5 separate regions of the Homo sapiens genome follow, and regions 1, 2, 3 and 5 are each reported to be linked to region 4. Evidence: microRNA targets listed by miRTarBase, many of them from high-throughput screens and not tested one by one. Region 4 holds a microRNA gene; each other region holds the end of a gene's coding sequence.
Evidence for each region. Region 4 holds the annotated microRNA hsa-miR-650 (AGGAGGCAGCGCUCUCAGGAC, at 3,186-3,206, opposite strand). A microRNA usually pairs through its seed, bases 2 to 8, with sites in the 3' UTR of a target mRNA and lowers its output. Matches are read on the target gene's strand: a 7mer-m8 pairs with bases 2 to 8, a 7mer-A1 pairs with bases 2 to 7 and ends in A, and an 8mer does both.

Region 1: the mRNA of GPR156 is a reported target of hsa-miR-650. Seed matches in the 3' UTR shown: 7mer-A1 at 4,022-4,028.
Region 2: miRTarBase lists TG as a target of hsa-miR-650. The part of its 3' UTR that is shown has no 7-base or 8-base seed match.
Region 3: the mRNA of CPNE5 is a reported target of hsa-miR-650. Seed matches in the 3' UTR shown: 7mer-m8 at 1,798-1,804.
Region 5: miRTarBase lists MTHFD2 as a target of hsa-miR-650. Seed matches in the 3' UTR shown: 7mer-m8 at 2,822-2,828.

Annotation. Positions count from the first base shown.
Region 1 is chr3:120,161,705-120,167,884 of GRCh38, forward strand. GPR156 (G protein-coupled receptor 156) reads right to left here. Exons shown (of 10, transcript NM_153002.3): 10 at 3,774-6,180. The coding sequence ends at 5,328. The region is part of intron 1 of LOC105374065 (a long non-coding RNA gene); the gene reads left to right. Among named protein-coding and RNA genes, the nearest start is that of GSK3B-DT, 70 kb to the left of the region's middle.
Region 2 is chr8:133,133,538-133,139,742 of GRCh38, reverse strand. It overlaps TG (thyroglobulin), which reads right to left. Exons shown (of 48, transcript NM_003235.5): 47 at 6,083-6,205; 48 at 4,844-5,067. The coding sequence ends at 4,949. Among named protein-coding and RNA genes, the nearest start is that of SLA, 34 kb to the right of the region's middle.
Region 3 is chr6:36,736,958-36,743,162 of GRCh38, reverse strand. CPNE5 (copine 5) reads left to right here. Exons shown (of 21, transcript NM_020939.2): 21 at 677-2,388. The coding sequence ends at 895. It also overlaps the pseudogene GPR166P. Among named protein-coding and RNA genes, the nearest start is that of RAB44, 42 kb to the right of the region's middle.
Region 4 is chr22:22,819,792-22,825,996 of GRCh38, reverse strand. MIR650 (microRNA 650) reads right to left here and starts at 3,221; the gene lies at 3,126-3,221. It overlaps LOC105372948 (a long non-coding RNA gene), which reads left to right. Exons shown (of 4, transcript XR_938047.2): 4 at 4,361-5,016. It also overlaps IGL and IGLV2-8.
Region 5 is chr2:74,213,721-74,219,689 of GRCh38, reverse strand. It overlaps MTHFD2 (methylenetetrahydrofolate dehydrogenase (NADP+ dependent) 2, methenyltetrahydrofolate cyclohydrolase), which reads right to left. Exons shown (of 8, transcript NM_006636.4): 8 at 2,125-5,611. The coding sequence ends at 5,448. It overlaps SLC4A5 (solute carrier family 4 member 5), which reads left to right. Exons shown (of 31, transcript NM_133478.3): 31 at 898-3,448. Among named protein-coding and RNA genes, the nearest start is that of MTHFD2, 18 kb to the right of the region's middle.

The DNA of each region.
Region 1 (6,180 bases), not on the chromosome of region 4:
CTGGGCATTGACCATGTGCCAGGCACAGTGCTAGGTACTGGATTCCAAGATAATTATAACAAGTTCTAAGCTCAAAGAGCTCACAGTCTTAACGGGAAAAGTGGAGAAATGAACAGTCACACATGCCCTAAAGAAAGGACTCTGCAAGGATATCTCTGCCATTCTTCGCAGAAGCAAGCCTCACCTCTCAACTTAGAACTGGCGTCAGTACATTTATTTATGTGAGAGGCAATTGCCACAAACTGTCCACATAGGATGCCTTTTGTTCTTTGATTGGCTTGCTCCTTCACCACATCTCTCTTCTCATCTCTCTGTTGTTTGGACTTCTTCTTCTTCCTCTTCTCTTCTCTTCTTCTTCTTCCTCTTCTCTTCTTCTTCCTCTTCCTCTTTCTCTTCCTCTTTCTTGTTGAGTTGAAGTTTCACTGGGTCACCCAGGCTGGATTGCGGTGTCACAATCATAACTCACTGCAGTCTCAACCTCCCAGGCTCAAGAGATCCTCCTGCCTCAGCCTCCCGAGTAGCTGGGACCACAGGCATGAGCCACCACACACAGCTGATTTTTTATTTTTTGTAGAGACAGGTTCTCACTCTGTTACCCAGGCTCGTCTTGGACTCCTGGGCTCAAGCAATCCTCCTGCCTTGTCCTTCCAAGGCATTGGGATTACAGGCGTGAGCCATGGGACCGTGCCTGAACTTCTTATCCATCTTCCCTTTTTTTCTCCTAGCCTTTTGCTTTCTTCTTAGTCACCCACAGACCTTTCCAGGGTGTCTCCCAGGCACTTATTCTCTGAGCCTAATGTTTCTTGGGAAACCTTGACACAGACCTTTTCAAGTTCACAACAGGTTTTGATTTGTGACATTGGCATTTCCTGTCTTCTTGTGACTTAAGTGGTGAACAAAACATCTCAAGATGTTCTCTTATTCAAATGTGGTTTGATTGGGGAATGCTAAGGTCAAGAATGTTTCAAGGAGCAAGACATCAGAGTGGGTGCCAGGGATAGGGAAAGCAAACTCTGAGGGCAAAGTGATAAGCTCTCTCCTGCTTTCAGCCTCCTAAACACCACTGTCTGCATTAAACCCTCCCTCTTGGGAGGCCGAGGCAGGCAGATCACGATGTCATGAGTTCAAGACCAGTGTGGCCAACATGGTGAAACCGCGTCTCTATTAAAAATACAAAAATCAGCCAGGTGTAGTGGCAGGTGCCTGTAATCCCAGCTACTTGGGAGGCTGAGGCAGGAGAATTGCTTGAACCCAGAAGGTGCAGGTTGCAGTGAGCTGAGACCACGCCACTGCACTCCAGCCAAGGCAACAGAATGAGACTCCATCTCAAAAAATAAAAATAAATAAATAAATAAATAAATAAACAAACAAACCCTTCCTTAACAGAGCCCAGATTGTGTTACTGGGAAAAGTGCAGTGGCCGGAGGGAATAGAGAAACTGTTTTGTTTGGAGTTCTGAGAAAGGGGACTCAGGAAGCTGTTGGTGATAGAGACAAACAGGTCTTTCTTCTGCTAATACTGCTTGTTACTCATTAACAAGCCTGCAAAGAAAACGTCTTTAAGACAAGAACTTTATCAAGAACTTTGCGCTTCTCTTCCATAAACTTCATTGCCCTGTTCCCCAACCCCCCAACAAACTTAAAGTACTGTCATTTTCAGAATTCAGTGACTCCTGGGTCTGCAGGTGATGTAGTTTCATGCTGTTAACTCACCGGAAGGCAGTGGAACCAGATGCGTGTTTTTCCTCCTGCTCCTCCGCTCTGGCCCCAAAACAGAAACTTTGCCTTCCTTTGTTTCACCCATTTATCTACCCAGAAATCCACCCATCTAGCATTTGTTGGGTGTATACTTTGTGCAAAGATCTGTAATGGCTACTCTAGAGGAGAAAAACGATGGAGAAGACATGCTCAATGCTTTCAGGAGCTTGGAATCTGTGGAGGAGACACATGTAAAGATAATACGATAAACACAGATACAGAAGAGATTTTATAGAACTTGCATTGACTTTTCTCTTTTCCTCTTTCAAAGTGATATCATTCTTTAAAAACAGGCCTCCTGCCTCTGATGCTTTTTTTCTCCTCTATGAACTCTAGGAAGGCCAAGTTGAACCTTTAAGGAAAGAGGGTTTGTGGCAGACCAGGACAGGGAAAGACATTGGGATCAGGATGGAATCCAAATGTTGAAATTCCAAGATTTTCAACAGCAGAGGACATATGCTGGGGTTAGAATCAGGCCTGGCTCCATGCTATGCCTTAGGACCAACAGAGACATGTATAGCTCAGATGACAGCAGCAGAGGCAATGTTTACTTCTCCAGGATTCCTTTGCACAATTTACTGCCCTTTCTTCAAGAGCAGAACAACCAAGAGCATGCCAAAAGTCATGGCACATTCAGCCCTTTAAGGATTTCATCACTGGATTAGCTGATCTTAGGTAAAAATTTAGGAAAGGAGGTGGGGAAGGGTAGGGGTGATGCACAGAGTAAATGATACATTTGGTGGCAACATTTTGTTGAGCACAGTTATGGTGTTTGCACATTGCTTTTGAACAAAATGATAAATTTCAATCAGGTCTGGCAAGCGTTACAAAGTCATTCTAGGTCAAATGGATAACAGAAGCCTCTATATAGTTGAGTCCAAAATACAGACCCTAAGACAGCCTTCCTTCTCTTTTTTCTCTTTCTTCTTTCTTTCTTCTCGAAACGGAGTCTTGCTCTGTCACCCAGGCTTGAGTGCAGTGGCACCATCTAGGCTTAGTACAACCTCTGTCTCCCGGTTCAAGCAATTTTCCTGCCTCAGGCTCCTGAGTAGCTGGGATTACAGGCATGTGCCACCCACGCCCGGCTAATTTTTGTATTTTTAGTAGAGACGGGGTTTCACCATGTTGGCCAGGCTGGTCTTGAAATCCTGACCTCGTCATCCGGCCGCCTCGGCCTCCCGAAGTGCTGGGATTACAGACGTGAGCCACTGCTTCCAGCCCATCCTTCCTTATTTAACTAGGGAATCAATCAGCTTTCTTTGGGGATGGCTGGGAAAGGTTGAAGAAAGAATGTATGCTCCACCTGAGCCTTGAAGGATGAATAATTCACAAGGGCACAAAGTGGGAAAAAAAATTCTAAACAGAAGGATGGAGATGTAGAAGGGCGGGGATGGTGGGACTAAGGTTCTAGAAGCAGACAGAGTGAGAAGGCTAGAAGGATTGCCAGATTTAGAGTCCACATGAATGAATGGTGGGCTGCTAGTGGTGGCATGCTGGGAGGAAGGGAGCTGCAGGAGGGGGAGCCCAGCCACAGGACCCCCAGGGGCAGGAAGAGTCCAGGGTCTCCAGGGTTTCCTATGTCCATTGAGGGAGTGTTTCTGGGATAAGAGGCTTCTTAGGGAGAACACAGAAGAATCTGTTCAAATGGAACTTTGGTAGAAGGTACACTGGGACCCAGGGTAGCCCGGCAGCAGCTCTGATGGCTTCTCTGGTTCCCCTTCTTTGGGTGGGTCAGCCTTCTCCGGGCCCCTCCTGGCCAGCCCCAGATTACAGTTTCTGAAAAGACTCCTCTCGGGAGTCATTTCTCTTTTATTATGGTACCACTTGGACAGCACACACACAGCACAAGAAACTGCAAACCCATGCACAGAATAAATTAGGAAATTCCTGTTTAAAAGTAGATGATAGAAGAAGCTGTGCTTCCAGGAGGGCCTCATGGTTCAGTGCCTGGAGAGTCCAGGGGTGTCAGCAGCCCCCAAGATTCCATGATAAATTGATGATACATTTAGAGCCAAATGCCCCCCTCTGAGAATATTTAATAAGGCCTGAATTCCTTCATGCAAACATGTGCACACCCACAGATGTATACACAGGACTCGGGGCAGGGGACAGCCTGGACATGACAGCCAGCTCAGCAATAAGCACAGTGGACCCAGGTGTGCTCTCCCTGTGGCTCTGGTGGTGGCTGAGTTCCTCGCACTCATCCTTCACCAGCTCCCCAGCTCCCTTGGGAGGTGCCAGTGTGGCCTTTGGCAGTGAGGAAGTGGAGGCCCGTTTCCTGAGGTGAGGACCCAGGTCTATTATTCTGGACTATAGGGGAGCACATCCCAGCTTTCTTACATGAGCCTTGCTTTGTTGTCTCGTCTGCCAAGCGTCACCTGCCATTCCCAGAAGAACACATGAAGCCATGTGTCCCTGGGAAAACCCACCTACTTGAGTCCCAGGAGCTGTGTGTACATCTCTGTCCAGCAGTGTGATGTTGCGGGAAACTACCTCATTTCTCTAAGCCTCATAATCCTTGTCTGTAAAAATGAAAGTGTCTACTTCACAGGGTTATCAAAAGGAATCACAAAAATATGATATTGCCAAGTACTATGCTGGACTCAAGTGAAATATTCAAATCCTGTTTTCTTTCCTGTTTTCGTGTCCCTCGTGTCTTCCTTTTTATTTCTCCATTTGGCTTCCAGGTTTATGTGTCTGTTGGTAGTCATGTAACCCCAATGGAACCAAAAGCACTCTTGACCAACAGGTTCTCCCATACCCCAACAGAAATTGCTGGTGTGTGCCTCCCCGCAGTACAAAACTGCATCAGTGGGTGAATCGAGGATGAGCCACAGGACAAGGGGACAGTGGGGACAGTCAGGACCTCAGGTACATCCGATCCCAGGGGAGAGATCTGGGAAGCCTGCGGGCGCATGGAGATCTGTCTCAGAGAGGAGGGTAAAGTGCCATAATGGTGGAAAGACACCATCAAGAAATAGTGGTGTAGGGGTGGCTCTGAGCTGGGTCTGGCCAGAAGCTGGAATCTAGGGAGGTGCTGTTCACAACATTCAGCAGAAATAAAACCACTGCCTTCCAGGAGTGGGAGGCCCAAGGATGTAGGAGACTTATCTTCCTGGTAGGTCTGTCCACCAAAAGGCCAGTTTGATGGGTCACAGTCCACACCTCAAGTTCTACAGAAATTTCCCATGCATCTCTCCATCTGTCTGTCCATTCAGCCATCCATCTGAATATATTAAGAGTTTTACAGAATGTAGGCTGACCTGGACAGAAAATCCTATGTGTTCATTCAGCACCTTTTATCCAAGGAGTCAGTGTCTTTCATAGTCACTCAACTGGAGTCTTTTATAGTAAGGCTGCGAGGTAGTAACAGGACAGGCAATGCCTCTCTTTTTATAGATCAAGAAGTACTCAAAGTAACACAGTGAGCCTAGCTGAAACATGGTATGGGCTGGTCAAATGCAGGGCACTAATCTGTTCCCCAAAGACCAGAAATTGGCTCTTCTCCTGTGGGCCTTGGTACAGCTTCTCTTGGACTGACCTCTGTGTCTAGACCAGCTCTGTTGCTTTTCACACCAGCGTGGGTTTCAAGTCATCTTTGAAGTTCACAATAGGCTTGGAGCGGGCCCACAGCTTTTCCCAGGAAGCCAGCCCCCCAGTAGGCTCAGGGTCAGTGTCTGATGTGCCACTGTCACTAGAGTCAGAAGAGCTCTGGAAGCAGATTTCACAGTAGGGCCGGTGGCAGCGGCAGAAGAACTCATCTGAGCTGCTGGACTCAGTATCAAAATAGCTGTGTTGAGAAGACAGGGAGGCACAGCCTGAGGGCACTGGGGGCCACAGCTGCCACTGTTCAGGCAAGTCAGGTGAGGCTTTGGAGAGGCATGGGGCAGCAGGACTTGGGGCCCGGCCAGAACCAGAAGGCTGGCGAAGAAAGGCTGCTTTGCTCCCTCTAGCCCCCTCGGGCTCTGTCTGGCTTTGTTTGCTGCCCTCCAGGGTACCTGGTCTGTCTTGAGGATCTGAAGGTAGTGAAGGCTTCCTGGAAGAAGGTCTTCGTACTCTGGAATCAGTAGTTTGTGGGGCCAGGCTGGGGCTGTCCCCATTCTGCACATGTAGCCTGCTGTGTGCCCCAGGAACAGTCCTGTTTGCCCGATGCCCCACAGATGAGGGTGCAGAGCCAGGAAAGTGTGAGCGGGCCCGCTGAGCTGCCCGCCTTCTCCTCACCATGTAAGGGCTAAAGCCGAGCTCCTTGGAGAGGGGCATCTTTTGGGGGCTGAAGGCAGCACTGTTCTTCCAGGTTTGCTGATGACAAGAGGGGGCGGTGGAGAGGGAAGCCTCAGGGCCCAGGCCCAGATCTTGTAAGACCTCCTGAAGTTTCTCCCTGATTACTGAACTAACCCGTGACCGCCGCTCTGGGGGCTCCTCT
Region 2 (6,205 bases), not on the chromosome of region 4:
GTGAGCTCCCAGATAATTTCTTCATTTTGTTTCTTAATTCATGCCTTGCAGATTGTGAATATCACTCTGGTTCTCGATGCGAGGTGATGTCTCATTCACCTCTTGACTTTTGGTTGACCCTAAGCTTGATGTGGGTGTACTGTGACCTTCCTGTCCTTTAAAGATGGAGAAAAGAGATTATGACACCTTTACAGTTGCCCTGATGTACACTCATGTTTGCCCATTGCAGTTGGGAATGGGTTATGCAATCCCATGTGACTTCAAGAGGAATCTCTGCAACACATGAAAGATGCAGTGGGAGTCCAGAGCCCAGAGTTCTGGAAGCCAGGTCTGAGAGGGCTGACCGTGGGGCCTGGGGCATTACCTTCCCCTACTTGTCTTAATAGGAACTCTGATCTCCTGCAGCTCACACACCCTAGCTATTGTAGATTGTCTCTTCCGCTGCAGGTTTCTGAAGGTAGTTCCAGGGTAGGACTGTGATCGCCTGGCCTCTGGGTCCCTCCTATTTCCCATCTTTACCTTTCTCATGCATTGGCACATAGCAAGTGCCTCAAATCCATGGTTAACTTCAAGATCTTTGTGAACAGCACTTTGCTGTTTTCTGTTCACATATATTCACACCCTTAGTCACCAGGGTGAATCTGCAAAGTAGGCGTTATTATTATAACAGGATGTTAAAATGGGGTGTTTTCAAAGGCTGAGAACAAAATAGCAGGCGTCATCCGGTGGTGCTAGACCATACGTGCAGGGCTTGCAAAGGGGCGGTCAAAAACCAGTTCGCCAACATTAGCTCATCACTAAACTCTAATGTGAAGGAATATGAACAATTTGTTTTCAGGGCCAATGCTGGTTAATTTAAGGGGTGTTTGTATTATACCAGAGTAGACTTTTTATTATCAGAAAAATCATGAGCTAGGTATATGAGGTTTGGTCCAAGGGCAGGATAAAATATACATCTGCACAGGTATAGTGATGCACTAGTTTTCTATGGCTGCTACAACAAATTTTCACAAATTTATGGGCTTAAAACAACACAAATATACTGTCTTACCATTCTGTTGGTCACAAATTCAACATGAATCTCAAATGGGTGAAAATTAAGATGTCCACAGGGTGCAATCCTTTCTGGAGCCTCTAAGGATGAATAATTTTCCTTTCCTTTTCCACCTTCTAGAGGACACCTATATTCCTAGCTTCATGGTCTCCTCTCTCTATTCCAAAGCCAGCAACATCAGGCCAAATTCTTCTCATGCTGCCATCTCTCTGGTCCTCTTTTCTCCCTCCCTCTTCTACTTTTAAGGACCCTGTGATTACATCAGCATCATCTGTGTAATTCCAGATATTTTAAAGTCAGTTGATTAGCAACCTTAACTCTATCTGCAACTTTAATTTCCTCTAGTCTTAGTTATCCCATCTACCACAAATGGAGAAGGGTGGGAAAGAAACAACATTGCTTCCAGCTTGCACCTTGCTAAGCATTGCTCACCCAATGTAATTGAATCTATTCTACAGGTGAGGAAACTGCAGATCAGGGAGATTAGGAGTGGTGTCCGCTCTTGACTATGCATTGCAATCCCTTAATGCCTGGCCCCATCCTCCAGGGATTCTGATCTAATTGGTCTGGGATATGGTCTGGGCATTGGGAGTTTGTGAAAGTTCCCAGGTGATTCCAATGAACGGTCAAGGATGGAAACCACTGGGCCAAGGAATTACTCCAATTCATCCAAACACCTGGACAAACATGGTACTACAGCCCAGCCTACCTCACTTCAAAGTCCCACTAAGGGGCTGGTGGAGGAGAAACCTCCTACCCTTTTGCTGGAGGGAATTTTCACTTTAACTAAAAACAGACTGTGATTAAAACCAAAGGAACAGAACTTCAGGGGTAGAATATCAAGCACTGAATTCCTGATGGCAACACAAGAACAAGCTTTCCTTTCAGAAAGAAAAATGAGACAGTGTTCAGAGGACAGAACCTCATATAGGGCATGAGACCTTGATAAATGACATTGCTTTTATTTTATTTCTATCATTATTAGGGCCAGACTATAGAGAGGGCTATGCCAGAAGGACCTTCTAGATACCTGAAGCCTCATTCCAAAACCCACAGAGGCCCCTTCCTCTTCCTCCTCTTAGAGAGTCTGATTTGAGGGCTTTCCCATAGCACTGCATCAGCCCAGCCCCCGCCCCTCCTGGACATGCTGTCCAGTCCCCAAGCCCTGGGTCCCATAGTGGTTTACATTGTGACCCCTCCAAAAGACACATCTAAGTCCTAACCCTCAGTGCCTGTTGATGTGAACTTGTTTAGAATTAGGGTCTTTGCACATGTAATTAAATTAGGGATCATGGGATAAGATCATTTTGGATTTAGGGTGGCCCAAATCCAATGACTGGTGTCCTTCTAAGAGAAAAGAGAGGGAAGTTTGATGCACAGAGAAGAAGGCCAGTGAGGACAGAGGAAGGGATCAGAAGGCAGTAATGAGCTAAGAAACACACTGGCCACCAGCAGCCACTGGAAGGTGGGAGAGAGGCCTGGGCTGGATCCTCCTTCAGAGTCTTGGAGTGGGAACGGCCCCAGTAACACCTCAATCCAGGGCCTCTGGTGTCCAGAACTATGAAATAATACATTTCTGTCGTTTCAAGCCACTCAGTTTGTGAAAATTTTGACAGTAGCCACAGACAACTGATAGAGGTCTCATCCATCCCCCAGTCTGGATACCGCAGGAGACCCAAACACAGTGAGAATGCAGAGCACTACCTCCTGGAGCCATGTCTCCTGCCCCTGTCTGAGCCCCCAGATCCTGGAGCCTTACCCTGGATTAAGGGTACACCAAGGAAGCACCAGGGCCATGACTCCTGATTCTGGGAACTCGAGAGCACCTCCAAATACAGCACATGATTTTCAACCCACACTGCACTAAAGGAGTAAAAAGGTGCTTGAGGCCAACTCCAACCCGGGGCCATGCCAGGAGAGACCCAAGGATGGGGAAATGGCCCCAACTGTCATAGTCTTGGGGGCATCCATTGTCTACCCAATAACTGTCTCCTCATTCATTGCTGCTAAATGCACCCCAGCTTTGTTGGGACAGCAATATGTCCTACTCTGGAGGATAAGTCATGCCTGGTATAATTGGATCACAGAAGGCCCTTTCATCCCTCATTGCCAGTGATGGTTTAAAAGGGAGCATATGGTCAGGCGCGGTGGCTCACACCTGTAATCTCAGCACTTTGAGGCGGGATCACTTGAGGGCAGGACTTTGAGACCAGTCTGACCCACATGGTGAAACTCCGTCTCTACTAAAAATACAAAAAAAAAAAATTAGCTTAGCCAGGCATGGTCGTACATGCTTGTAATCCCAGCTACTTGGGATTCCTTGAAGCCGGAGAATCCTTGAACCCGGGAGGCAGAGGTTGTGGTGAGTCAAGATTGTGCCATTGCACTCCAGCCTGGGCGACAAGAGTGAAACTCCATCAAAAAAAAAAAAAAAAAAAAAAAAAGGAGCACATGACTTAGTTCTAGCCAAAAAGATGTAAGGGGAATTCTGCTGAGAACCTCTGGGAAAAAACTTTTCCTCCAAAAAAAGAAAGAAGCACTGGAGGGGAAAGCCCTTTAGCTCCTTCCCCATTTGCCTCCAGCATGAGATGCTGTTGGGGATTATGTGTGATGTCTGGAGCTGTGGCAGCCATAATATGTCAGTGAATTGAAACACCATTCATGCGCTGAAGATGGCAAAGAGGATGGTTGGAAAGAGTCTGGGTCCTTAATGACATCACTGAGACACTGACCAACCCTGGGACCATCTACCTATCGAGTTTCCTTTGGTTAAGGCCTTTTAGTTCAGTATTTAAGTGCTTTCGCTGAACCATCCTAACAGAGCCTATAATGCAGGTTGGAGGCTAGTCAGGGCTTTCAGTGCTATCAGTAGGTTTTGTAGGACACACAACGTGACCCTAGGCCTATATTTTATAGTCCATACAGTGCATGGAAACAGAGAAATGGGAAAACCTGAGTTGGACTCTGATTCTCCTCCTCTTCACCATGTGAATTCAGGTATAGTGTAAGTCTTTCTGAGCCTCACCTTCCACATTTGCAAGATAGGACAAAAATCTCAGCCTACAAATCATCACTAATTTACTCTGAACTCAAATAACATGATGGGTATGAATGCATTTGATGGCATGCCATCTAAGTGAACAAGACTGTTAACCAGCTCCACTTGCTTTTACTTTGGGTGAAGTGTGTGTCCATGTGTGTGTGAAAGGGGGTGGAGAGACAGAACGTTTTAACCAGAATATTTGCCTTAAACGTGTGTCCCTTAGGAGGGTGAACATTGCTTATCCGGGAATCCAAATCATCCCAAAGTTGGGGCAATTCTATCACCTTGCACCAACCCCCTCTCACATTTAATCAAGTTCCATCAGTTCTACTTCCTCCAGGGCCTGTGGCTCTGTTTCTTGCCCCAGCTCCATCCTCATTGTCTTGCTTCAGAGTGCATTGCTTCTCACTGGACCATTGCACCCATTCCAGTTGGTCTTCTACCTCCACTCTGGAACCTTTGTGAGTGAGTCTTTTCTACCACTCAGGTGGGACTATGCCACCTGGGGCCTGCTCTTGATGGATCCCCATTTTTTGTGTCACTGTTTGCCCAGCATTCTCTCCTTCTGGAGGAGCAAAGTCCTTGTTTCTCCAGCACCCAGCACAGGGCCTGGTGCATAACAGATGCTCATAAACATTTGTTGAATGGAAACAGCAGCCTGGGATTCAAACCTTAGAAAGATTATTAAGATATAGTTGGTGTTACCAACGAATTGCCTTGGATTCACACATTAGAGTCAACAATGCTTCACCGCATGTAGATACTTTATTGAAGGTAAGTGGCTATTTTAGAGAAAAAGATGACCATAGTGGGCAGCCTCGGGTGAGGTTTTTGGGGAGCTCAAGGGCTGGTCACTTGCTGTAGGTCTTAGAGCCTGGTTCCTGGAGGCTTAGGAGATCTTCTCTTAGCCCAGATCCAGCCGTCAACTCCTCCTCTTCACTCTCTGCTGACTGCCCGCCCTTGGCTCCATCTGAAACAGAGGGGCAAGGAAGGTTGGTCCAAGCCAGATTAGGACTTCTCTTCTCTGGTCCCTTCCTTTTGTCCCAAAGAGACCCCAGCCTCCAGTGGACATTTCTTGCTAATGCCCTTTAGAGGGAATTTTCCACTGGCTGAGGTGCCAGATGGGTCTCCTGGCTATAGGGACATGCTAAGGGTACAATGGTACTTGGATTTGTTGTCAGCAGACAGACACTCAGCCTTGGAAGCTAAAAGCAGAGTTGAAAATCTAAACTATAGCTGGACAAGATCCCTTCCCTGTTTAACGGACTACTCCCATTTCTCTGTATCTGAAAAACTCCTGTCATTCTAAAAACCACAGCCCAGCATCACCTCTCCTGGGGACCCTTCCTAGAGCCTCCAGGGAGGAGTGAGTCCTCCTTCCTCTGGGCTCCTGCTCACTCAGACACAGGCTTCCATCATGGCTCCAGGAAAGCTGAGGGCCATCCCCTGGGTTGTGTCACTCACACCCGTTATTCCAAAGCTTCCTAAGGGCATTGTGTTTACTCTCTATTCCCAGTGCCTTCATTATAATTTCTTTTCTCTCCTTAACACCTCTGCAACAGGAAGAGGTAGAAATGCCCACTTTTCCCCTGGCTAGAGTTACCTCTCCAAGATTTTCTATCTAGGACTTCAAGGACTGTGAGGATGAGGTTCAAGACACTCCCTTCTCTTCCCATACCAACGTTCTAGGCTGGAAGCCCTGATGTTGGTTCAGCATTCTACCCCCCATAGACCTTCTCTCCTAGTCACCCCACTGCCCTCTTCCTGTGCCTCTCTTTCTTTTCCTTCCAGCCCTACATCAGAACAGGAGGCCCTTGGCAACATGGAGCTCCCCAGACCATGAACAACTCACAGGAAGGGGCTGTGCCATTGGCACTGGTGACCCCTTGGCTCCAATGCGCGCGCAGCACAGGTCTCATGCAGCGAGCACAGCAGATGCTGAGATCAACACCCAGCTCCCTCCACTTGTCCCAGGGCTTTGCTACCTGCAGATGTCTTCAGAGACGAGATGTACTTGGACCAGAAGGAGCAGTCGGCTTTCTTCAGGCCCTGTCGATTGGGGAGCAGCTCACTGAACTCCTTGTAGTTCTCTCCACCAGCACGGGGTA
Region 3 (6,205 bases), not on the chromosome of region 4:
GCCCTAGTGCTTAGGAGATGCAGAAGACAAAGCTGACATCCTGCATACCCCCTTGGTTTAAAAATTGGGGCCCAGTATCCCAGGTGTGGAGACCAAACATAGGGGGCTGGAAACCAGAGCAAGACAACCTGGGAGGTGGGACCGGCCCATGCTAAGGCCTGGAGGCAGGAGTGAGCCAGAAGAGGCGCTCAGGATGGAGGGCACCCCCGGGAAGAAGCCAGATGGGCCTGGCATTAGGCATTGGCCAGATTAGCCCCAGAGAGAAAAGGAACGAAGAGAGGCCAGAGAGAGAGGGCTCTGCTGGACAGGTCGGGGGAAACCCAGGAGGGCACGTGCCCCAGAAGTCAGGGATTCAGTTGGCATTTCGGAAGCACCTACTCAGAGCCTGTGCTTAGTGCCGAGGTGGAGAAATCGTGTTCAGTGGTGTGTCCTGGTGTGGAATAGGGCTCAGTTTTTGTCGAGTGAATGAAAGAATAGTGACTATGACTATAGTTACTGACTGCCCAAACCCAGGGAGTTGAGGGATACAGTCCCTCAGGTAATTCAGAAAGGTGGGGGGATTGAGTCAAGTGAGCAGAGGCTGGGAGGGGGGTGGGGATGCAACCCCAGGCCTGGAGATTTTGGGGGCCAGGGTCCCACAGGAGGCACTGCCTGACCCTGCCCTCCCACTTGCCAGTTTGTACCCTTCCGGGACTACGTGGACCGCACAGGCAACCACGTGCTGAGCATGGCCCGCCTGGCCCGAGACGTGCTGGCAGAGATCCCTGACCAACTGGTGTCCTACATGAAGGCACAGGGCATTCGCCCGCGTCCCCCACCCGCAGCACCAACCCACTCGCCCTCGCAGTCCCCAGCCCGCACGCCCCCTGCGTCCCCCCTGCACACGCACATCTGAACCTGGTCTCAGCAGGCAGGTGGCTGGGGCCTGGGAGAGGCCAGGTGAATGGGAGGCCAGGGCCCCAGACTCCCCGAAGTTGGCCTGCCCGGCCTTTGGGACATCTGTGTGCCTGGGAGGCTGCCAGGGGGTGGGGCTTCTGAAGACCCCTCCTCAATTTCTTGGCCTCACTTATTGCCCAAACCCAGGGAGTTAGGGGGGTACGGGTGAAAGAGGGGTACACAGGGACCCAGCCCTTCTCTTCTTCCCCAATACCTGGCTCTAACCCAGCCAGGAAGGTGTAAACAATAAGGGTGATTGGGGTCCCTGTCGCCCACCCCCGGCAATCCTATTTGCTTACCTGTCACCCTGAAGCCTGGGCTTGGCCTCCTCCAGCCCCCCATCTCCGTCCCATCCTCCCATGGTGTCTACTCCTGTCCCTGAGCCCCGCCCTGTGGTCTATCCTGTGCCCGATTTCCAGTGAACCCCATGAAGCTGATGGGTTTGCAGGAAGGCCTGAACATGTGCACCCTCCCAGGGACACTGGATGCGCTGGGAGCCCCGGGGACCCCATGGGGTGCTGTAATCATGGACCGTAGGCCATGTGATGGGCCTGAAGTGGAGGCTGCTCAGCACAGAGCCCTTTCTGGTGCCTCTCGAACTCAGTACGATGCAAGTTCTAGACACACAGATGGCCTGTGGAGGCCTCTCCCTGGTGTGGGCCCACAGGTACTTCCATGGTTGACTCCTGGCTTCAGGAATCCCTTCCTCCCTCCAGAGGCTTCCCAGGGCCCTCGGTGCCCACGCCTCTGCCCATCTGGAGGCCTGAGTAAGGAGTGGCTCAGCCCCACGTTCCCACACTGCTCCTGCTCTTTGCCCTGTATCCCATGAGGCTAGGAGACAGGAGTCCTGGGTTTGAGCCCTGCCTCCCCCCACTGCCTAATGTGGGAACCCAAGCAAGGCCCTTCTACCTTTTGGGCCTCAGTTTCCATGTCTGTACCACAAGAGGGTTGACCAGATGGCCCCAGGTTTTCCTTTAGGTCTGACATCCTGAGGGTCATTCATCCCATGCCCAGTTCCCCCCATCCTACTCCTAACAGATGTGACCCTACTTGAGGCCGCCTTGGCTTTTGGGTCACCCTGTCTCATCCCATCACCCCAAACATACCCTAGTCCTTCAGCCTGGGGCTCTGGCATCTGAGCCCGAGCTCCTGCCCCTGCTGTGGGAAAGGTGGGGAAGAAGGGGATCTCCCTCCCGGGCCCACCCAGCTGCCCAGCCTTTGCCCACTCGGGGAGCAGATCATGCATGCCAATCCCTGTTGCCGCATGGAGCTCCTCAGCCCACTGACCTCTCCGTGCCTGGTGCAGGCCAGGCCCCCGTCTTCCGCCTGCCTCTGCTTCCCCGTCATGCATGGTGGTGGTGTTTCTACGGTGTCTGGTTCTGTGCCCGTCTCTGAGACAGTCTCTGTGTGGAATTTGCCTTAAACTGAAGTAAATTTGGTTCTTTTAGTAAAGCACGAAGTTTTTCTTTCTTCTCTGAAAAATAGCACTGACGTTGCTGCTTGACAGGGTCCAGTTCTCCTCTGTGGCTTCCTTCAATTGTTTGCTTCAGTGAGATTTACAATCAAAGGCCACGTGCCACGCTCTGTGCTAGGCATTGAGGATGCAGCCATGAACAAAGCACAGACCCTGTCCCTGCACAGGGCTTACAACACACACACAGATAATATGGGAGAGACCCAGCAAACACATCAACAAATAGGCTAGTAACATCATTTCAGGTGGTAGCAAGAGTTCTAAAGACACATGAGGGAGAAGGAGGGTGATGTTTTCGATGAGGTGGTCAGAGAGGGCCTCTCAGAGGAGGTCATGGTTGAGGTGAGCCCCCAGGAAGTAAGACAGGGAGCCACGCTGATATCTGGGGAAGGGAGCTCTAAGTAGAGGGACCAGCAGGCGCAAAGGCCCTGTGGTAGGAGCTTCCTTGGTGCATTTGCAGGAGAGCGAGGCCAGTGTGGCTGGAGCTGAGTGCAGGAAGGGAAAGTGCTAGAGATGGGGTCGGAGAGGTGAAGAGGCCAGAATGCACAGGCCGCATAGGCCATGATGAGGCCTTTGGCATTTACTGAGTGAAACGGGAAGCCATTGAGGAGGTGAGAGAAGTGAGTAACATCATCAGAATTTCCTCTAAAATAAACGGATTGCTTTATTGCATTTGATCACTCATTCACTCATCTCTCAACAAGTATTTACCAAACATGAGTGCCAGGCCCCACTCACGTATTGGAGACCATGCTGGAGATGCACACACAGAATTGCACCCTCAGGGGTGCCCCTGCTCTGGGGCAGTGAGCGAGGAAATACTACAACCATGGGGTACTGATGCCAAGCCATCAGGAGGGGCTGGGTAATCTGTGGGCACCAGAGTCACTGTGCCATGAGGAGGAGTCTGGCATCCCCTGTGCAATGGGGTCGTCACCACCACCCCCATCCTTGCAGGGTCATCGTGTGGCCAGAGTGACGAGTACATAAGGTTGCATGTGACATATGTGACATGCGCCCAGGACCCATGGCATTTTAGGTGCCCAAGAAACACTGTTTTCCTCTTGTTCCTCTTCACATATAAATCCCTGTGGCCATCAGGGACCAGGATCATAGCAAAAGGGGATTTCTCCCTTCTCTGGGCAAGTTTGTTCCCAGATTAGCCCTCCAGGCAGCCATTCCCACCCTGAACATCACAAGAAATTTGGAACTAATTATACCAAAGTTTGGGACTTGTTTACTTCTTATGATTTTATAGTAAATGGGTGCTGATTCACGGCTGTCCCTATAATTACATGCCCCTGTGACTTACATTCTGATATGCTTTGAGTGGGAACAGGGTGGGGTCACAGCTTGGAAGGAGGGAAGTTCCCATAACCAGCAGCTCATGTCACCTCACCACAGGGGCCGTGGGAAAGTGTCAGGAGAGGGTGCTTGCCTGGCAGGGGGACTGAGGCACAGAGCCACTGCCGGGGGCGGGACGGGACACCAAGAGCATCTTTGCTGTGCCCAACACCGTAGCATCTTGTGGATTCTTTCCCAAGGTGTGTTCCACAGAATACTGGCTCTCTGGCATGGAGTTTGGGAACCTGCCTGCTGTGCGTCCCTCTCGAGAGTCTCAGTGGCCTTTTGGGTATTCAAGGCTCTGGTAAGTCCTACAGCAAAGGGACCAGTATGATTTGGTTCAACCCAACGTTTCTCAAGCTTTGTATCACAGAGTCAGTGTGTGTATGTGTGTTTTGCTGGTAACACCGTCACCAAGCAGAACGTGCTGTCTTGGGAATTTCAGTAGAGACAATCTCCCGGGTTTCCAGGCCAACATGGAAGCCTGAAGCCTGCCCTGAGCAGGCCAGAGGGAGGGCACTGAGGGTGGGAAAAATGGAAACCTCAAATTGGGCTCTGGAGAGAAGAAAAGGGCTCTGAAAGGGATCCCTGCCCCAGGTGCTTCAGGAAGAGAAGCCACAGGGAAGAAAGGAGGGCTTCAGACATTCACAGTCCCGGAGTCATGGCTGCATGGTTGACTGGATTTTTGTCCCCCTATTGGACTGAGGGGTGTGTGGAACAGAGCTGGAGGGGTGGGCAGAGAGGGGAAAGGCTGTCCTGCCTCTGAGCTCACCCCCCAGGCTGTGGCTGGCCCTCTGCTCCCCCTACTCAATCTCCTGGCCTTCAGGATTAAGGACCCTAGGCTGTTACCCCCCAGATCATTCTCCACCCACTTCTCTGCCTTTGGAAGCCCCTCTGTCCTCCTCTTGTCCACTCACCTCAAATACCCCTGAATTAATACAAATAAAATAATAATAGTAGCAATGACCAGCACGCATATGCACTTACTAAGCATCCTTCTAAGCACTTTACATGTGTTTAGCAAATTCATCTTCATAACAACCCTGTGAAGAAGGTATGTACTGTCATCATCCCATTTTCCAGATGAGAACACTGAGACACAGAGGCTCAAGATCACACAATTAGAGAGCAGTGGAGCCTACAGAGATCTGAGCCTGAAAGTGGAGTGGGAGGATCCATCTGGTTACCTAGAGATGTGAGCTCTAGCTGAGCCATTTAGTTGCTTTGTGACCTTGTTTGGGCCATCTGCCCTCTGGGTCTCAGTCTCTCCACTGGTAAAATAGAGGGGATGGGCTGTCAGGTCCCTAAGGGTCTTCCCATCTCCCTTGAATCTCAGCGCATCCATCAGCCTATACTCTTAGACCCCCGCCAGGCCCCACAGGCCTCCTGAGGCCCTGTCACGGCCAGGCTGGACAGTCGCCACCACTGAGGCTGCCACTCCCACACCTCTGGGATGCCTGGCCATCATCGGCCTGCAGAAGAGGTCCCTGAGTCCTGCCTGGAAGGGGCGGGAGAGGTAGAAGCAGAGGATAGGGCTGACAGCGCAATTGGAGTAGGCCAGGATGGTGCAGAGGCTGGAGGCCACAAAAGCAGCCGGTGTGGCAGGCAGGTAGCCCATGGCTGCCACATAACCCAGCATGGAGCAGGGCCCCCACATCAGCACAAAAACCACCAGCACCACAAGGCTGAGCCCTATGTTCTCTTAATGCTCCTGGATGCTCTCTCCCATGGGACCTTGGGGCTGGGTCCACAGGAGCCAGCCCACGTGGCTGAAAGAGCAGCCCAGCCCCAGCGTGCATGGCAGGAAGGCCAGGGCTCCCAGCAGGCTGATGTAGCAGGAGGTCCCAGCAGGGCTCAGGAGCAAGAGGCAGGCCTGGGTCTTGGGAGCCCCCGCTGTCTCCTCCTCCACTGCCACCCTCTGGAACAGCCAGTTGGGCAGGGATTCTGTAAGGCCCAGGGCCCACATGGCCCCACAGAGCAGCAAGAGGGTGCCCCAGCCGGCTGGGAAGGCCAGGTCAGGCCGGGCCACAGCCACATGGCGCAGGAGAGCTGTGGCCACCATGCTATAGAAGATGCAGAACGTGGTGGCTGTGTTGGTGGCCTGGCTAATGGTGCAGATGGCAGGGCCCAGCCACCAGTTGTGCTGCAGGAAGCTCAGCAGCAGCACAGGCACCACGCAGGCCAGGAAGAGCAGGTCAGATGGCGTGATGTTCATCATGAGGCTGTGGGTCAGGGAGTGGAGCGGGTGGGGGGAGCCCGGGCCCCGGCCCACCACCAGCAGCATGAGCCCATTAGCTGACAGCCCCACCAGCAGGATGAGGCCACAGACCCCAGCAGAGATGAGTCGGAGCAGTCGCTCAGGTGTGGCCGTGAGCTGCGTGGTGAACGTAGCATTGGGCTCCATTCTGTTTCAAACACACAAGGACAAAGTAGAAACCAGCCAGCCCCAAA
Region 4 (6,205 bases):
CCAGCATAAGACATTATGACTATCAAGTTCCTGTTCTGTTCCTGGCAATTTGTTGTAGGGCCTTAACAGCTTAAAATCTCAAGCTTCCATATTTCATTGCTACATTCTGAGTTTTAAAATCTACATGCTTTATGTAAATTTGCAACACATTTAAACCTTAAACTTCATTTATTTATTTATAATCCCCAGAACTTCAAAGATCATGCATGTTTTTGGTTTCAGCTACAATGCTGATTTTATGATGTTTTTCTCTGAGCCTGTACTGGTTTATTCCAGAGTTGGTGCAAGCTTCCCTGACCATTTGCTGCTCCCGGTACCTCTGATTTTCCACCTAGGGTCAGTCTATTTCTGATATACTAAAGCTTTCTGAAAACTCAGAGCAAATGGATGAGATGAAAAACATGAGACTGTGACACAGGGCTGTCCTGGGAAGACCCAAGATCCAATTAAATAGATGATACAAGTATGTTCTTATCCAAAAGCCTCAGGCCACTATAGGAGGTAAAATACAGTATCCTTCAAATAGAGATCTCCACCTAGAACATATGCGGTGGAATTCTCAAACTTCAAATTACCCTACAAATCAGGGACCGTTAAACCACATCCTGTGGGCCATCCCTGTCCTGCCACCTGTTTTTCCATGGCCCCAGAGCTGAGAGTGGTTTTTATAGGTTTAAATGGTTACACTATAAATGGTGCTAAAAATACCTACAGAATATCCTCAAAGTTGACTCTTGGGAACCACAGACCAAAATCCTTCTTATCTGGACATTTAAGAAAATGTTTACCAAATTATAAAAATAAATAGCACTGAAGTATTAGAGAAAATGCTCAACTTCAAGCAGAACAGGAGAAATCAAAACTAAAAAAAGATAACATTTTTAAATCTGCTAGGTTGAAAAACATTTAAACTTTCCCCAGTGTACTCTGTTCGAATATTTATGGCTGACATTGCGAATTTGTAGATAACCCCTCTAGAGGAGAATCTGAGGACAGTGAGTGAAAATTACAAGCACACATCCTTTTGACTCAGCAATTTGACTTCTAGAAATTTATTCTATGGTCATGTCTACATATAAAATCAAAGGAGTCTACATAAGGATGTTCGCTGCAGTGTTATTTATAAGATCAAAATAGTGATAATAACCATTAAAAGTGAGTTGGCTAAAATTCTACCATAGAATACTCTACAACCTTTGAATGAATGGGGCAGTGCTCTATGCCTAGGATGTCTCAGCAAAGAATAAAAAATAGTGCATGCATGGGATGGTCTTTTACATGGAGGACAAGGACAGGGGCCTTCACTCCACTCTCTCCTTTATCCTTGAGATGATCTACATCTGCCAAAGAGGTTAGGAACTGCGGAAGTCTCCCAGCCAGAGGGAGGCTTCCACAGCCAGAGGGAGGCTTCCACAGCCAGAGGGAGGCTTCCACAGTTCCTAACCTCTTTGGCAGATGTAGCCTGAATGCAGCCTGGCCTGACAGCTTGGCTGCAACCTCGTGATTAACCAGGAGCGAGAATGACCAAACTAAGCTACTCCCAATTCTAGGTGCATCCAAGTCACAAGGTCACAGACATGTGTTCTCTTAGTGTGCTAAGTTTTGTGAGTGTTTTTTTATGCATCAATAGACAATACACTTTGGTTTTTGAAATAAATTTTAGTGTTTATATTTCAGGTACACAACATGATGTTATATAGTAGTTACTTTGTAAATATATATAGTAAACTAGTTACTTTGTTTTAAATATAATCTGTATAATCGAAGTTTAAGGAGCCTAAACTATATATGATAATAGCTGTATTTAACAACTGGCTCAGAAAATTTAAATATTGGACCCAGCTAATGTCCGAATGTGTTCTAAATCAATTCTCACCATTAGATTATTAGGGATTCCAGGTACAAAAGTATTGACAGCCATGAAAATTAGAAATGCTCGATGTCCATGAGGAAGGGAGGTGGACTCAGGTTAACTCTTTCCTGTGGAGCCATTTTGGAATCCCCCATCCTATGGGAAGACCGTCCACTTGTGAGGAGTTTCCAGGACAGGGCCTCAGCGATGTGAGGGGAGGAGAATTCTGCGAGAGCACTGAGCCTGTCACTCAAAATCTCCCCAGCTCAGCAACCTGAGGAATTTCGGCAAAGAGCAGGAGCAATAAAAAGAAAAACAGCAGCATCCTCTTTGTTCTTAATCCCTCAAAAACATCTTCAAGTCTTCTTAAAGTGGTCACTTTAAGCTAGGAGGGCCATCTTCATTAGAGCGTGGTGGACACAGAGTGGAACAAGATGCAATTCCTGGAAACTGGAAGCCATCCCCCTGATGGCTTCTGTCCAGATTGATCTGCATAGTGTGACAGATGGGGGATGCATTTAGAATGAGGATGTTCCTGAAAACAGGAGGGACTGCACCAAGCAGTAAACTCCTTGTCCCTACGTCCCTGCATTGAAGAGCTAGGAATAGTTGCACGTTAAGGGACCAGAGCACACAAGCAAAAGGAAGTTGCCACAGTCCTGAACGAGAAATCACGAGCAGGTTTCCTTTTAGACCTCATGGTGGGAAAGGAGAGGAGCTGAGAGAGGAGAATTGTCAAGGCCATCCTGCAGGAAACCCTTATACAGCGTGAGGAAGCATCTGCAGAGCAAGAAGGGGGCCTGAGAGCCCAGGGCAGGTTTTGATCTTACTTCCTCATTGACTTAAAACACTGTGGAAATTGTTGCTGCCTGCATATGAGCTGCAGTAATAATCAGCCTCATCCTCAGCCTGGAGCCCAGAGACGGTCAGGGAGGCCGTGTTGCCAGACTTGGAGCCAGAGAAGCGATCAGGGACCCCTGAGGGCCGCTTACTGACCTCATAAATCATGAGTTTGGGGGCTTTGCCTGGGTGCTGTTGGTACCAGGAGACATAGTTATAACCACCAACGTCACTGCTGGTTCCAGTGCAGGAGATGGTGACTGACTGTCCAGGAGACCCGGACGCGGAGGGAGGCTGAGTCAGGGCAGACTGGGCCCAGGACCCTGGAAAGGGAGAAACACAGTCTAGTGAGTCAGTGCTGGGCCCAGGTGAGCCTGAGGAGCAGGAGACCAAGGATCAGCCCAGAGGTCCCTGTGGCCCCTTCCCTGGAGGCATCACCTGTGCCCTGAGTGAGGAGGGTGAGGAGGAGCAGAGCCCAGGCCATGGTGGTGACGTCCTGAGAGCGCTGCCTCCTGAGACCCCAGCACTGGGCCTGCCCCCAGCCCTGTCTTATCCCCTCTGCCTCAGAGAAGGGCGGGACCTCCATGCAAATCTGCATCCTGAGCTCCTCTTCTCACCCCACCCTCACTTGGGCCTGGGCTTAGAGACTTCTGCTTCCCTTGACAGCGGGGCTCAGCCAAGGAGACTAAAGTCCCTGATTGTCTATTCTGATGACAGGAAGTTGATTTCTTTGCACGTGATTTGCTCAGGAGAGAAAAATCTGCTGAAGCCCCTCACCTGAGTGAGCTCTTGGCCCTCAGTGTCTCTGCTGTGTGGTGCCTGTGTCTCTGTGACCCTCCAGGCCTGGGCACACCTCGAAGTAACCTCTTTCTGGCACTCATTGCCAGGTTCTCTCTATTCTCAGGAAATGGGGCTGCCCAACCCCACTGGAAGCCTCTGCTGGGTGGCGTTGGTCCCTGGTCTGCCCAGCGGCAGCCTCGTCCCATCCCCACTCCCATGCTTTGTCCTGAAGCATCTGCACCATCAAATCCCTGGAGCACATCAGCCACCCCAGGCAGTGCACCCACATCCACACGGGCACATGTGGGTGGGACCCTGTGAAGGGAACAAGGAGCACCAACCAGGGCCACAGTCCTGAGCCTGAGTCCGCTGCTCCCAATCCTGCCCCTCCCACTCATGAGCAGGTGACTTGTCCTTCCCAGCCTCTGGTTCTCAGCCTGATAAATGGAGACCACAGAGTCCGTTCTGCATACAGGTGATCCATGGGGATATGAGCCAGCAGGGAAAAGGGAAAGTTTGCTAACAGGCCTTTCTATGTGCACCAGAGTGATGTTATCTTGAAAGGTTTATTGAAAGATTTACTTCCATTTTACTGTGATTTATGTGTCAGGTCACAGAGATGCACGTTTCCGGCTTTCTTACTTTCCCCCATCTGAGCACATCCTCAGGACAACCTAAAGCTGACCTCTCTCAACCCTTCGACACTGAAGACACACAGACATTCAATAAAGACATTTTTAGTTTTTCCTCCAAATGCGTTTAATCTTTCTTCATCTTTCCCCATTGCCTATGATGCAACTCTTTTAATGTTCCATATTAAAATAACTATTAAGGGATTCAGGTTCTATTTAAATATTGTAACATACACTATCCTGTCTTCCCATCTAGATTGAGCTATAAAACCATGACAAGTGCATGGAGCAGCTATTTGAGCACCAGGAAAGGAAATGGTACGCAGCAGTTTGGGATGGCCCCAGCAGATGAAATACAACAGAGTCAGTGTGAGACTGCTGGATTTCCTCACTGTCCCCTGGCTGGGACTCCAGACAGCCCCAAACCTGAAGGGGCACAAACCTGAAAACAAAAAGAAGTCCAGAAAGCCCTCTTGTTCAGGATCGAACTTGGGAAAGAAAACTTATTTGGCTCAAAGTGAAGGCTCAGTCCCCTGCACAAGCAGGTGGTTCACACCTGTGTTCTCATCTCTCTTATACCAGCGCCTCTCCCTGGGTTCACACTGATGTCCTATGGATGGAGACGGGGCTTCCTGCACCAGGTCACTCCACAGCCCCTGTAACCTGAAGCCCTGCAGACCAGCCTTGTTCAATCACAATGTGATGTGAGCCTCATGGGAATCCCACTGTCTAGTCATCATGTTATAAATACAAAGAGAAGAAGTCAATGAGTTTAAATAATGTATTTTATTTACCTAGCATATCAAAAAGAGTATCATTTTCATATATAATCTAAGTACAATTATTTATGATATATATCATATACTTTGCATGGCTATTGTTATTATTTTTTGAAGAATCTTTATGTGGAGATTGTGTGGCTGATGGAGATGTGAATGGGTTTCCTGTTGACAAGGGTGGGTTGTGGTGGCTTTTTAAGTGTCAACTTTGATAGGCTGGAGGAGGGGTGGAAAGAATGATTTTTTACACAGGATGTGGAGGGTGGAGGTAGGCAGTGTCCATACTTAAGCTCACCCTGTGGGTGCATCTGTGGTCCCTGCATGGGGTAAGGCTGCTCCTCCTGCCCCAGGTTTCCCTGCAGGGAGATCTGACTCCAACTCTCCCTTAGACCCCAGAGCACCTGGCGAGTCAGGCTCCCTTCTCATTCCATGCAAATGCAAGAAACACTCAGATCTCATTGGGCGTGTGGATACTCACAGTGCTAATTTAGGAATAAACAGGTGCTTTCCAGCATACAGTGGCCTCCTGAAGTCCCACATGGCCCATGTTGGGGATGGCTGGTGATCTTAATTGGGTTCCCTGGAAGCAGACTCTGAGATGAGGAATTGCATGCACAGAGGATGTGAAAGGAGGTGAGGGAGGCAACCCTGGGCAGGAGACCCTGACCCTCATTGAGGTCTCAAGTCTTTCCTACAGAGAGCTGTGGAGCTGGGAGGATTTTCAGGTCTTCCTATATTGAGGCAGAGTCGAGAACTCGGCCTCAGGCAGTCATGAAATCTAACCTCACTGAGAAAGGGCATAGACCTGGAGGAGTCTGTTTTCTGCACCGAACAGCACTTTACAGTGAGGACACAGCTCTGACCTGCCAGAAGCTCCCAGTAGTGCTTAGTGGGTAAGCTCAGAACAGGGGATCTGGGCAGATCCCACAGTGTCTACTCCATTGGTGTTTCTCTAAAGAATGACAGGCTACCACAGGAGCCTGAGCTGGGCAGTTCTGGGGACTGATCTAGGACATTTGGGGCAAGGACTGGCCTGTCACCACCTATGGAAATCCAGAGACAACTGTGGATGTCTACCTCAGTCTGATCTTCCATGCAGGCCCTATTTTCCCAAGTCACAGCTGAGTCACCAAAACACCAGTCCATCCTGATCACATCACCCTAAATGAACTACTGATGCACTTTCTGCAGACCCCGCCTGAAGGACTGGAGGGAGGGACAGGCTGGGGGCAGAGATTAAAGAGAATTTAACCAGATCTGCGTAAGGCTTTGTTCATAGTCCTCCTTGAATTAGAGAAAGAGGGTGACATAGATGGCGAAAG
Region 5 (5,969 bases), not on the chromosome of region 4:
AGTAGAGAGAAAATTTGGACCAGGTTAGGGGTTTCCAAAACCCTGTTAAATTACACAAGGCCCTAAGACAGGGTCAGAAATGAAGAAACTTTGGTAACTGGAGATGGTATCTCCCAACCTCATTGGTGTTTTACTGAATTTATGAAAACAGATGGAGGCAAAGATCACTAAATAGCAAGATTCTGTTTCAGTGAAAGGCTCTGCAACATGATCTGGTTTAACAAAGACTAAGCATCAATGATCTACCAGGTGCGATGCTTAATCCCTGAGGATGTGGAAAGAAAGGCATGCAAACAAAGACAGAGCACCCTGTGCAAGAATATCGGAGTACACAGGGAGGGAGTAGCCTCGTTTTGAGAATCTAAGAAAGGGAAACTGGAATCTGCCAGACATAGAGCGGGGCAGAGAAAAGAAAAGGCATTTCAGGCAGTGGACACAGGCCCGAAGTACCATTTGAAAACACACACAAACACACACACACACACACACACACACACACACACACACACACACCTCCAAAGAGCAAAGAACACTGCAATGGATGGGGCAAACTAAGCAGGCAGGACTACAAACACAGAAGACTGTGTTTGTGTTTGTGAGAAGACAAGACACTCCTGTCTTCTCACACTAAGGAGCTTAGATTCTTTGAACCCAATGAGGAATCACCAAATTTGTGATTTCAAAAGTTCACCTTGGCAGCAATGTGAAGATAGGTTTACAGGGTGAGACCAGATGCGTGACTATGGCTGAAGGCCAAGCCAATAGGAAACTGCTCATTCTGGCATGTGCTGAGAGTTCAGAAGCAAAGATGGAAGTATTTGCATTAGAGCCCTGCTCTAGGGGATGGGTTCAAAACACCAAGAACTACGTAATCCTTCTTTCCTACTTCTCGTTCAGCATCACCTTGCACTTCAAAATATCCTGTCCAGCTTCACCTGCTTTCAGCTACTCACGGAACCCAGTGTTCATGGTGCCACAGGTGAAGATAGAGATGGAGTCAGACTATGACTTCACAGACATGGATAAATACCGAAGAGAAACTGACAGTGAGACCACCCTCTAGGATGAAGCAGCTTCTCCCAGATGGGAGATGGAGAGCCTGGCTTAGTCTTCACTGGGAGGGTCTTAACTTCTCTGTGCCTGTTTCCTTCTTTATCAAACAGAGGGAGTCCGTCTGCCTATAGAAAACTGGAGATCTATTGATGAAAAGTATTGCTTAGATGCAAAGCTCTCCCCTTTGTAGTAATTAAAATACCTAAAGCTAAATATTATATTTTATTTTAAAATGCAGTTCAGCATAGAAATTCTAACATTTCTTTGGAAATAAAAAAATGCTTGTTTCCCCAAACCATAGCTAAGATAAAGGGGCAATAGTCAATTCATATTTAAAACAAATATCAATTTAAAATTGTTTAAAGGTTAGATTTAAATATAGATGTTCTCAAACAAACTTGTAATATACTTTTATGTCACTAGACCATCTTTGGAATATTTGGCAATTCTGCATATTAAGAAATGCTGAAAAGGTCCTATCTTTTCTCCCTGTCACATCCAATTTCCTAAGGGTTATATGAAAAGTTTGAACCAGCCGGGCACAGTGGCACACGCCTGTAATCCTAGCACTTTGGGAGGCCGAGGCAGGTGAATTGCCTGAGCTCAGGAGTTCGAGACCAGCCTAGGCAACACGGTGAAACCCCGTCTCTACTAAACTACAAAAAATTAGCCGGGTGTGGTGGCATGCACCTGTAGTCCCAGCTATTCGGGAGGCTGAGGCAGGAGAATCGCTTGAACCCAGGAGGCAGAAGTTGCAGTGAGCTGAGATGGCACCACTGCACTCCAGCCTAGGCAACAGAGTGAGACTCCGTATCCAAACAAAAAAAAAGTTTGAACCATCTGCATTATGGGCCTTGCTCCAGAAGTGTGACTGGGGCTTTCCCAGATTGAAAAGCCAGTTCCAAAACTCTGTTAATGAAAGAACCAATGCATCTGAGTGGATAAATGTTTCTAAAATAAAATAGTTCTTGTTAAAGTGAAATTTGAAACCACATGTTAAATCAAAATGATCCTTTAAATTAGTATCACTGGTTTTTCATACCTGGAATCACATTTCATGATACATTTGGGTGGGTCCTCCCTGCAAATTTTCAATGTTTATTCCCAAAGTCAAACTCCCATTCATGTGAACAATACAGGTTAGACAGAGGTAAGGTCACATTTTACATTACAACTTTGCAATATTAATCAACCTAGTACTTTAAAGGAATGATTGAAAACTATTTGGGAAGATAAAAACCAGTTTCAATGAAGCAAACCTATTCCTCATGAAACTTAAGATCAGTCATTTTATCTTCAATCCACATTTAATGAACACCAACCATGTTGATTTAATGCCTACTATGACCCTGACAGCCACAGTGCATCTGACACTTACTTTCTCCAAAACAACTATGATTTAAACCTTGAGTAAATCACTTGAACCTTGAGGTTAGAGTTACTATATTTGCTCAAGATGACAAATGCAGGTGCTTTCTTTTTTAAAGAAAAATGACACTAGATCATTAACACCTTGAGTATAGGACAGGTAATTGCCTCTGTAATTCCCAGCGTCTAGTGTAGTGCCTGGTCCATAGAAAGCTCTCAATAAGTGTTTGATTACATTTAATCTCAGAGCTCCCTTCCAAGGGATACTGCCAAGAGGTAAAGCTCCAAACCTCTACTCTTACTGAGAGCAGAATTTCTTAGAATTTCCAGAACCATCTCCTATGCTTAAGTATAAATTCTTGTCAGACACAGTGGCTCACACCTGTAATCCCGCTACTTGGGAGGCAGAGGTGGGGGGAATCAGCAGAGGTCAGGAGGTCAAGACCAGCCTGGGCAACATAGTGAGACCCATCTCTAAACAAATGTTTAAAAATTAGCTAGGCATGCTGGCACACACCTGTAGTCCCAGCCATTTCAGAGGCTGATGCAGGAGGATCGTTTAAGTCCAGGAGTTCAAGGCTGCAGTGAGCTATAATCATGCCACTGCACTCCAGCCAGGGAGACAGCTGGAATCCATGTCTTATAAACAATAATAATTAATTTTTAAAAAAAGTATTTATCATCCACACCAATCCTGGGGAAGCTAACAATCCACCCTTAACACATTTCAGTTTTAAAACCTGGCTGATCTGGAATAGAACTTTGTCCAAATTAAATTGTAGAAATGCTATGGATTCAAGAGTAAACCTGCTTGATTAATCAAACAAGCTGGAAAACTACTGTTAATTTCTTTGTTGTAAATTGATCACTGTAATTTTACCTTACATGTCATTTATATTTTGTATATACATGAACATTTTAATTTCCATAGCTTTTAACAGGTTGACATAATACTTCTCCATGCAGTAAGTCAGTCATTTTTTCCACTTGTAACTGTAATTCAATAAAATTTAATCCTGTCTGGTCATCTTGCTCCACATTTAATAATCTAGGTAAGCAGGCATGGATTAGAGACATAAGCTATACGTCACTTACAAAAACATCTCCAGCAAACTATCTAAACTTCTTTAAACTCCAGAGAACTATCAAAAGAATAACGCCAGCTGGCAGAAGAACGAGGACGGAGGTAGGTCAACTCAATTGTTTCTTCTCTTTCTGCCTCAAGCTGCCTAGAGCAGGAGCTACTTCTGCTCGCATGAAAGCCAAAAGCCAAAACAGACAAACCTATCCCTGCCTCAAGTATTTTACAGATTAAGCTCCTAGCTTGGCACAACCTGTTGTGATATAAGACTGTAGGACAGGCCAGGTGCAGTGGCTCACGCCTGTAATCCTAGCATTTTGGGAGGCCGAGGCAGGTGGATCACTTGAGGTCAGGAGTTTGAGACCAGCCTGGCCAATGTGATGAAACCCCATCTCTACTAAAAACACAAAAATTAGCCAGGCATGGTGGCATGCACCTGTAATCCCAGCTACTCAGGAGGCTGAGGCACAAGAATTGTTTGAACCCGAGAGGCAGAGGTTGCAGTGACCCGAGATCATGCCACTGCACTCCAGCCTGGGCAACAGAGCAAGACTCAGTCTCAAAACAAACAAACAAAGAGACTGGAGGACGAGGCTGGTTTCTCCAAAGCTCTTTAAACCTCTGTTTGGGTGTGGGTGGCCCAGGCCTGTAATCCCAGCCCTCTGGGAAGCTGAGGCAAGAGGATTGATTGCTTGAGGCCAGGAGTTCAATACCAGCCCAGGCAACATAGCAAGACCCCATCTCTACAAAAAAAAAAAAAAAAATAGAAGAAAAAAAATTATCTATTTAAGGCTATAGAAGTAAGTGTTACTGAATATAGGAATAGCTACATTGATTAAATGAGAAAAAAACTGGTTAGGTCACAACTAGGAGTCATAGGAAGACAGAATTTCAGAAATTCATACCATACCAGACAGATGTGTTTTATTAAAAAAGAAAGAAAACCCTTTAATCAGAAAGTCTGATTAAATTCAATAGTAACTCAAACTCTTAAAAAATTTCTGGAAAAGTCAACAGGATACATACATCACAGAAAAGCAGGCAGCTGCTGACAGTTCTTTGGTGGAAAAGTAAGTTGCGTACTTACCCAAGCTGCCCAAATGATTATCAAGCCAAGTTTGTTTTTCAAAAATAGGTTTTAAGATACACCAAAGAAACTATACAATACAAAAATTTAACAATGAAGTTAAAGTATATAGCAAAAGCCAAATATGACAACACACATGTATAATGTAGAAAAGAATCCTTTCAGTCCTAGAAAACTAAAATGGGGAGAACTTACTGAAGGGTAACATACATAAAATGAGTACTAATAGCAAGGAATAATCCTAAACATTTTCCCAATAAACTGACTAAGCCTCAAAAGGACAGCTTAGGAAAATGATTAACATGCAGTTTTTCTTTTTTCCTAGCCAATTCAGTTCTACTTAGATAAATCTGGTTGCCAATCAATACATATATAAATTAATTTTTTTCTGCTCAATTACTACCATTTTTTCTTTTTCACCTTTTCCCTAATTTTCTCTAGCAACACTTTTCCTTTGGTTTGATCAGTTGAACTCAAAAGGTTTGGTACCTAAAATGAGTATCAACTGTTATTGCAATAGCACTTGGGAAATGCAATCCTAGAAAAGGCGAATGTGTAACTGAGGTGCTTGACAAAGTGAAGCATCCATCCTCCATATGGTAATGTCTCCCATATTAATCACTAGGTTAATGGCTGCTCCTGGCTAGATCACAGGACCCTGCATGATACTGGAATGCTCCCTGGTGAGGTACTGCAGAGGTATGTGCAGAAACACCCACCCATTTAAGCTTTCAATAAATACAAGGCATCATTTTAAACCATTTCAGTAGAATAAATTAAAAATATTGCATTTCTATTGGCCTGCTTTGCTTCTTGAGCTGGCCTGGAGTGCTGTTTGTGACACAGAAGACACAGTAGTTAATTAGTGGCTACCCCAAGCTCTTTAGACTTCAGCACTTCTCGCTCTTCAAGCCTCAGCACCTTTTTTGCAGCAATAATGGTATTCTTCATTAGCATTGCCACTGTCATGGGGCCAACACCTCCAGGAACTGGAGTGATATACCCAGCTTTTTGTCTGACTCCTACATAGAAACAAGACAGGCAGGCTGCTTTAGTTATGGCAAAGGACATGTGTGTACTTTAATATATTATTAAACAAGCATGCAAGGAAAAAGTAACATACATAAGCATAAAACTCAAAAATCACATCTACATCATTCAAGGTTTTGTGAACACACTAGTAAAATAACATGCACATACAGAGTTGTTCAAGGAATATTTATACATCTAAGTAACCTATAAAGAAATCTATTAAAGAAATATCTAGTAGGTTAACTGTGTGGGAGTTGTAAGTATAACAATAATAAGCATTACCTCAATACCTGCCTATAGCATTTTCTTAATTTAATTTTAAGTATAATTTGTCCAAAGCAGAAAGCA